Regions from separate parts of the Homo sapiens genome. Here region 2 is linked to region 1. Evidence: fine-mapped expression QTL. A gene starts in region 1. The other region holds a variant in brackets. All regions are shown on one strand. Distances are between the middles of the regions.

Region 1 (4,417 bases):
CTGCCCCCAGGGCTCCGCAGCAGACCTTGTCCCAGGGCTGGGGGAGGATCTGAGACCCCTTCCCCAGGGCCAGGAGTGCCCCTACTTCTCTCGGGCTGCCACTGACCCCTGCCCCCGACCCACCTCCTCTGGGGCTCCATCACCCTGGAGCTGGGTGGGCAGGGGCTCTGGATCTTGGATTGTCCCTGGAGGGCAGCCAGAGCCTGGTGGGACAGAGGCTCCTCCACGGCCCTCCCCTGGCGAGCCACCTCCTTTTACCCTCCCCTCCACTCCCAGACTGGGCAGCTCCCTCCTGTGGATTCAGGACAGGACGTGTTTGGGGGTGGGGTGCCGTCTGACCTGTTGCAGGGAGGAGGACTACGTCACGGGCGGGTGCCCGAAAGATGCCCAGTAAATAGGAGTAAGAAATGAATGATGGACAAACTTCCTCTTGCTTTACTAACTTGTGTGCTCTTGATTGACCCTGGCCTTTTTGGCCTCAGTTTCCCCATTTGTAAATAGAAGAGGTGGCTGGGCTGCGCAGGACTCAGAAAGACAAGGAGACAGGCTCGCTGGTCCATTTGGTGATGACTCACTGGAACCATGACAAAGACAGCAGGGGTGGGGGTGTGCAGAGATGAGCTGCCCCTCTCCCTGCTCACCTCCCCAACCCCCTGTGTGTAGCCCGGCTGGGACAGCCCCCCCGCCCTCCATACGCTCAGCTCCTGCCCCAGCTGCCTCCTTCCCAGTCCGTGCACCAGCAGACACAGGGTGGGGGCAGAGTGTGGGCTCTTTACCCAGCCCCTGGGCCACATTCTCTTGTCCACTGCGCTGCCCGCCTGCCTGCCAGTTGCTCCCGGGGCAGCTGTCTGCCGGGAAGCAGTGAGCCCGGTGATTAACCCTGCTGGTGCTGGCAGCTCCGGCTGACACAGCGCATTCTCAGGGCCGGCCCCCGCTCCCCTCCTGGCCAGTGCCGGGGGACAGCGGAGGCCTGGCAGCTTGGCCTGATCTGGCCGCTAGGAGGCTTAAAGTGCTCTCCCCACCCCCACCTCTCCCCCTGCCCCGCCACTCGCAATCCCACCCCTCCAACCACCCGACCCTCCAGGGATCCCAAGAAGCCCTCAGGGTCTCAGGAGTCTCCACCTCCAGTCCCCCAGGCTGTCAGAGCCCCAAGCTGTCAAGGGGGAGCCCAGAGCCAGAGCACACTGCCTGGGGCCAAGCCCCCACCTGGGGACCCGCTACTGCCCAGAGGCCACTCTCTGCCTCACACGGGATCTAAAGCAGCTCAGAGCCGGACTCTGCGCCTGGACTGCAGATTCCTTGATGTCTCCGCCCCCTCTCCAGCCAGCCCCTCCCCCACTTGGAGCTTCTCCTGCCAAGGGGAGCCGCCTCCTCTCCCCCCTCCCCCAGGTGGGAGAACTAATAGTGAAGTTATGGAAGAATTGCCGGGCCGGAAAGTAGGAGGAGGGAGAGAGGGTCCCATCGCCCTCCCGACTCCGTAGAGAAAGGGCCATACACCCTCTTGGGATTTGAGATTTGCAGGAGGCCAGGGCGCCAGGAAGGTGTGCAAGGAGGTGCACCCTCCAGGGACAGCTGCTAGCTCAGAACCCCCACCAGAACCGGCTGGCCAGTGCCCCACAAACCCACCCAGCCCCCCGGGACTGTCCAGGGAACCCAGCGAGAGATGAGCCCCACAGCCCATCTGGGACCATGGCCCGCCCAGCTGGCCTGGCTCAGGGATGGGGGTTTGCTGCCAGCTCGGCAGCTGCAGCCCCACCCCGCCGCCACCCCCTCGGGGCTTCCCTGGAGGCAGATTTGGCCCCGGAGCCCAAGGGAAGTAGGAGACCCAGGGCCGCAGCCACCCAAAGGCAGACGAAGACCTGATCTCGGCCTCTAGGTCCTGTGCTGTTTGCCAGGCGTCCTCGAGCCGCCGATCGTGGCAGGAACGCGTGCGCGGCTGTGCAGCGGGTTGGAGGCCAGGCCGAGAGAGCTGGTGGAGTCCACCGGGCCCCGGAGCACAGGTGCTTCCAGGCACCCAGCAGGTGCTCAGCAGCTGTGACCAGAGCCCCCGACCTCCTTAAGAGCCAATTTGGCGGCTGTGGGGCCATGAGCACCGCCCCCGTCCTCTAAAGGGGGCTGCAGCTGCAGGCCAGTCCCTCCTGCCCCTATTTCCCTATCTGAGAGTATTTTTAAGCCCTGCTGGGGCAGGCGGGAGCCAGGCCGAGTTGAACCTGACCTGGCTGCCCCAGGAAGCAGGGGGTTCCCACCTAGGCTGCCCCGTTCCTCTGCAGATGGTCATTCGCGGGTGCAGAGGGCACCTTCCCGCAGCCAGCAGGACGGACGCTGTTGGGGGAGGAGCGGGGGCAGCCGAGTGGTGCACCCAAGTTAGGGGAACAAAGAGTGGGCCCCTGGGCTGGGAGGAGCTGGTGGGCGCTCTGGGGGCCAGGGCGTCGTGGGGAGCGCTAGGGTCCCACCCGGGACCCGGAGCTACGACCTGGGCTGGGGGCCCGGCGGCGCCGTCGTCCCACGGCCTGGCCCGAGGCCAGCAGGTGCCCCTTCCGGGAGGCGGCCGGGCCGGGGTCCGAAGGGTTAAGGCCGCCCGGCCGCCCCTCCCCCTCCTCTCTCCTTCCCCCCCCCACCCCGCCTCCCCGGACCTCTCCCCGGGGCTCGGGGCTCGGGCGCTCGGGCGGGCCGGGGCGGGGCCTGACGTCCGCGGGCGGAGCGAGCCCTGCCGGCCGCCTGGCTTCAGACCCGCCGGGCTCCCGCCGCGCGCGCTGTCCCTGGAGCTCGGGGACGCGGCCCGGAGCCGGGAAGATGGCGAAGCGGCTCTGCGCGGGGAGCGCACTGTGTGTTCGCGGCCCCCGGGGCCCCGCGCCGCTGCTGCTGGTCGGGCTGGCGCTGCTGGGCGCGGCGCGGGCGCGGGAGGAGGCGGGCGGCGGCTTCAGCCTGCACCCGCCCTACTTCAACCTGGCCGAGGGCGCCCGCATCGCCGCCTCCGCGACCTGCGGAGAGGAGGCCCCGGCGCGCGGCTCCCCGCGCCCCACCGAGGACCTTTACTGCAAGCTGGTAGGGGGCCCCGTGGCCGGCGGCGACCCCAACCAGACCATCCGGGTGAGCGCAGGGGCGGGCCGTGGGGCTTCCTCCCGGGGCACTCGGACCCGGAACACCGGCCCGACCCCAGGGGGAGCGCCGTGGCCCGGGGCGAGTCCAGGTGCGGACTCTCTGGTTCCGCATTTTGGGGGCCCAAGAAGGCACCCCGACCCGGCCGCTCCGTCTCGGCCGGGAAACTTCGCGTCCCTCCGGGAAGGCGGAATTAAAGTCCCCGGCATGGACCCGGGGGCGGCTGGGCGCCGGTCCAGTTCGACTGCGGTGACCGGGGCGGGAGGGGGGCCGGGCCCAGTCCCTGGCGGCCCCAAGTCCGGGATCCCGGGGAGGGCGGGACTTGGCCTCCGCCGCCTGCTGCCGGTGGGGAGGGGGCGCAGCTCCGCCCTACCCGGGACAGGCTGGAACCTGTTGGCCTCTGGATGGGGTGGGAGGGGCCAGCCACCTGAGGCTCCCACTAGCCCCTCTCGGAGGAGTCTAGGGACTCGAGGAGACCTCCAAAGTAGGGGAGGGCCAGCTGCGAAGTTTTGACTGGGGCTGGGAACACGTGGCTCCCAGGAGGGGCAGCATCTCTGCCCAGCAGGTGGTAGGGTCCGGGGGCTTCAGTCTCCCTGGGAGATGTGGGTTCAGGCCCTGAAGACCCCCTGGGGTGCATGTCCCCTCCCCAACAAGCCTTAAACCTGTAGGCGGGTTCTGTTGGTGGACTCCATGCATGGACACCTCACCTGAAAACCAAGGCTCTTGGGGCCCTGTAGACTTAGGTTGGGCCTGGGGTCAGCCTTGGGTGAGGAGCAGCAAAGTCAGCTCCAACGGCTCCCAACCGGCCGCTCTAGGCCCATTCCCCACCTCAGCCCCACCTTAGGGAGAGTCTAGGGGCCCTGAGGGCCTGTGTAACCTGAGCTGTCTCCTCCCTGGTACCTCTGCCTTCCCGGAAGGAGAGGCTGGGGCAGGGGCGAGTAGCTGGAGATTTGCTGGGTGGGGGCAGAGGGCCCTGGAGCAAGACGTTATGGGGATGAATGGAGGAGCCTGGGCTGGGCCCGCCCCCTCTGCCTGCCCCACCCCCTTGGCCCTGGTGGAGGGGGAAGGAGCCTCCCCAGGCTTCTGGGCTCACCGTTCTCTCCTTAAGCCCAGCACAGTCCTCTGAGATAGGAGGTCTCAAGCCCACACTTCAGATGGGGGATCTGAGCCCTGGAAAGCTGCTGACACCTGCTTGGAGCCCCCCAGCCAGAACAGGGTCCAGCGGGGGTTAGCTGTGGGAACCTGGGTGCCTCCTGGCTGCCCCCTTATCTGGTCAACTCAGAGGGGCCGGGTCTCAGGACGGAGGGCCTGTGACTGT
Region 2 (4,000 bases), 33 kb after region 1:
GCTGCAAACCTGGGTTCTGGGGACTGAGCCCCAGCAACCCCGAGGGCTGTACCCGTGAGTGTGCCCTGGAGTATTGGGGTACAGGGGTTCCTTGGGGAACTGTGCCCACAAGTATATCCTGGAGGGAGTGTTGGGGTGCAGGGTTCCTGGAGGGGCTGGAGCCAGTGAGTGTGCCCTGGAGGGAGTGGTGGGATATGGGGTTCCTCGGGGATTGTACCCATGAGTGTGCCCTGAAGGGAATGTTGGGGTGCGGGGTTCCTCAGGGGGGCTGCGAGTGTGCCCTGAGGGAGTATTGGGGGTATGAGGGTTCCTTGGGGGGCTAGAGCCTGTGAGTGTGCCCTAAAGGGAGTATTGGGGTATAGGGGTTCCTCGGAGGGGCTGCACCTGTGAGTGTGCCCTGGAGGGAGTGTTGGGGTGTGGGGTTCCTCAGGGGATGGCACCCATGAGTGTGTCCTGGAGGGAGTGTTGGGGTGTGGGGTTCCTCGGGATTGCACCCATGAGTGTGTCCTGGAGGGAATGTTGGGGTGCAGGGGTTCCTGGGGGGGTACTGGAGTCCATGAGGGTGTCCTGGAGGGAATGTTGGGGTGCAGGGGGTTCCTGCGTGGGACTGGAGTCCATGAGTGTGCCCTGGAGAGAGTGTTGGGGTACGGGGTTTCCTCGGGGTGCTGGAGCCTGTGAGTGTGCTCTGGAGGGGGTGTTAGTGTGTGGGGGTTCCTCGGAGGGGCTGCACCCGTGAGTGTGCCCTGGAGGGAATGTTGGGGTGTGGAGTTCCTCAGGGGATTGTACCCATGAGGGTGTCCTGGAGGGAGTGTTGGGGTACAGGGGTTCCTGGGGGGGGGCTGGAGTCTGAGTGTGCTCTAGAGGGAGTATTGGGGTATGGGATTTCCTTGGGGGGCTGGAGCCTATAGTGTGCTCTGGAGGGAGTGTTGGGGTATAGGGGTTCCTTGGGGAACTGTACCTGCAAGTGTATCCTAGAGGGAGTGTCAGGGTGCAGGGGCTCCTGGGGGTGCTGGAGCCTGTGAGTGTGCCCTGGAGGGGGTGTTAGGGTGTGGGGGTTCCTCGGGGGGCTGGAGCCAGGCTCTCCTGCCCCACCAAGCATCTGAGTCCTGCCCTGCTCTCCCCAGGCTGCAGCTGCGACCTCAGGGGCACACTGGGTGGAGTTGCTGAGTGCCAGCCGGTGAGTCTGAGGACCAAGGTGTGGGGGATTTGGGGGCACACTGGTCAGGACCCTCCCCTGCCCCACTTCACCTCCTCCCTTGGCCCCCAGGGCACCGGCCAGTGCTTCTGCAAGCCCCACGTGTGCGGCCAGGCCTGCGCGTCCTGCAAGGATGGCTTCTTTGGACTGGATCAGGCTGACTATTTTGGCTGCCGCAGTGAGTGCCCACTCGCTCGTCCCAGACCACAGCCCTGCCTCCCCTCGGTTTATGCTGGGGAACCCAAGGCCCGGAGGGACAAGTGCAGCCTGGGCAGCATGAAGCCCGGGTGATGGATGGCTGCCCCTTGGTGCCAGCCTGTGCCAGGGTGTGGGAGAGGGGGTGCAGCTCCCACCCAGATGCGTGGCTTCCTCTCCCCTGTCCTACACCTGGGCAGACGGCACTAACAGATCCCAGCGCCCTCACCCTCGCCCTCGCCCTCGCCCTGAGCCCTGAGCCCTGAGCCCTGACTCTCCATCATCCAGAGAGCCCCAGGCAGGCTTCTCAGTCTGGCTGTGAGGGGCCCCTGAGGCTGGGTGGGGGCCAGGCAGCCTCTGACCTCCCACCTTCTCCCTGCAGGCTGCCGGTGTGACATTGGCGGTGCACTGGGCCAGAGCTGTGAACCGAGGACGGGCGTCTGCCGGTGCCGCCCCAACACCCAGGGCCCCACCTGCAGCGAGTGGGTACCCCTTCCCCACTGGGTGGTGGGGAGCGGGGCAGGCAGCTTGTCCTCCGGGCCTCTCCGTGTCCCTCACCATGGGCCCACGTGAGGCCTCACCCTCCCTGGAGACCCGGGGCCGCTGTGCAGGGCTAGGTAGGATGGCCAAGCTGCACCTGACCAGCCCCTGCTGTGGCCAGGCCTGCGAGGGACCACTACCTCCCGGACCTGCACCACCTGCGCCTGGAGCTGGAGGAGGCTGCCACACCTGAGGGTCACGCC[G/A]TGCGCTTTGGCTTCAACCCCCTCGAGTTCGAGAACTTCAGCTGGAGGGGCTACGCGCAGATGGCACCTGTCCAGGTGGGCGCTGTGCTCCCCCTCCCAGGCTCAGCCTAGAAGTGGAGCCAGGCGTGGCTGGCAGGGAGGGGTGGGCAGGCCCCTTGAAGGCCCAGGCCTCAGGCTGGCAGTGGTCAGGGAGAGTGACCCGACGCTCCATGCCCACCCAGCCCAGGATCGTGGCCAGGCTGAACCTGACCTCCCCTGACCTTTTCTGGCTCGTCTTCCGATACGTCAACCGGGGGGCCATGAGTGTGAGCGGGCGGGTCTCTGTGCGAGAGGAGGGCAGGTCGGCCACCTGCGCCAACTGTGAGTGGGGTCCCTGGGCCACAGCCCCTGCCCCACCAGCCCAGCCCACCCCACCCCACCCCACTCCCAAGCCCCGCCACCTTCCTCTGGCTCATGTGGGTGGTAGGACCAGCCTATCCCCAACCCTGTAGGGGGTGCAGCCTGGGGTGGCCCCAAGGGCTGGGCTCAGGAGTCTCACCCCTGCCCCCGCCCAGGCACAGCACAGAGTCAGCCCGTGGCCTTCCCACCCAGCACGGAGCCTGCCTTCATCACCGTGCCCCAGAGGGGCTTCGGAGAGCCCTTTGTGCTGAACCCTGGCACCTGGGCCCTGCGTGTGGAGGCCGAAGGGGTGCTCCTGGTGAGGCAGGGGCCAGAGTGAGGGCTGGGGGCCGGGTCAGGGGGTGGGGCCCACCACTCTCAGCACCACCTCCACCCTGCAGGACTACGTGGTTCTGCTGCCTAGCGCATACTACGAGGCGGCGCTCCTGCAGCTGCGGGTGACTGAGGCCTGCACATACCGTCCCTCTGCCCAGCAGTCTGGCGACAAGTGAGGGCCATGCGTGCGGTGGGACCGGGGTGGGGGCTTCCTGGACCCCCACTGTGCCTGGCTTCCCCCACTCAGGCTGTCTCTGGGGACCTGGGTGGACCTGGGGCTGACCACGGCCTGTGTCCCCCCAGCTGCCTCCTCTACACACACCTCCCCCTGGATGGCTTCCCCTCGGCCGCCGGGCTGGAGGCCCTGTGTCGCCAGGACAACAGCCTGCCCCGGCCCTGCCCCACGGAGCAGCTCAGCCCGTCGCACCCGCCACTGATCACCTGCACGGGCAGTGATGTGCGTGTCCTGGGACCCCACGGAGCAATGGGTGTTGCAGGACCTTGGCCTGGGGGCTGGGGGTCCTGTGGCGGTGGCAGGTTATAGGAGCAGGGCGCTGCCTCAGGCAATGGAGCCCAGCACCCAGGCAGGGCGCCCCTGCCTCCTGCCTCCTGCCTCCTGCATGTGTGACCTCAGTGCCTGTCTGTATGTAGGATTGGCTGTGGCCTCCACATACAGCTCAGCCCCCACCACTTGCCTGGAGATGTCCGGGCCAGGGTGGGACTCGGCTGAAGGGCAGGCCCTGGGGTCAGGGAGGCGCTGGAGTGGGAGGGGAGGGAGGTGGGAAGGGCGAGGGGTGGCGGGCCTCCCGTCACCCTGCCTTCCCTGCAGGTGGACGTCCAGCTTCAAGTGGCAGTGCCACAGCCAGGCCGCTATGCCCTAGTGGTGGAGTACGCCAATGAGGATGCCCGCCAGGAGGTGGGCGTGGCCGTGCACACCCCACAGCGGGCCCCCCAGCAGGGGCTGCTCTCCCTGCACCCCTGCCTGTACAGGTGAGTGGGAGCCGGTGGGGCTGGAGTAAGGGCACGCCCGGGGCTGCCCCACCTGCTGACCACCCTCCCCCCACAGCACCCTGTGCCGGGGCACTGCCCGGGATACCCAGGACCACCTGGCTGTCTTCCACCTGGACTCGGAGGCCAGCGTGAGGCTCACAGC

What was found.
Region 2: its variant is fine-mapped to the expression of LAMA5 in gastroesophageal junction (GTEx, PIP 0.92).

Annotation. Positions count from the first base shown.
Region 1 is chr20:62,365,622-62,370,038 of GRCh38, reverse strand. LAMA5 (laminin subunit alpha 5) reads left to right here and starts at 2,727. Exons shown (of 80, transcript NM_005560.6): 1 at 2,727-3,090. The coding sequence starts at 2,794. RefSeq lists enhancers at 425-1,124, 3,223-3,922 and a silencer at 2,604-3,043.
Region 2 is chr20:62,332,394-62,336,393 of GRCh38, reverse strand. It overlaps LAMA5 (laminin subunit alpha 5), which reads left to right. Exons shown (of 80, transcript NM_005560.6): 18 at 1-54; 19 at 1,125-1,177; 20 at 1,268-1,373; 21 at 1,773-1,872; 22 at 2,052-2,208; 23 at 2,355-2,493; 24 at 2,688-2,830; 25 at 2,913-3,019; 26 at 3,151-3,304; 27 at 3,677-3,837; 28 at 3,914-4,000. MIR4758 (microRNA 4758) reads left to right here and starts at 3,837; the gene lies at 3,837-3,907. The variant G/A (reference allele first, on the strand shown) is at 2,134.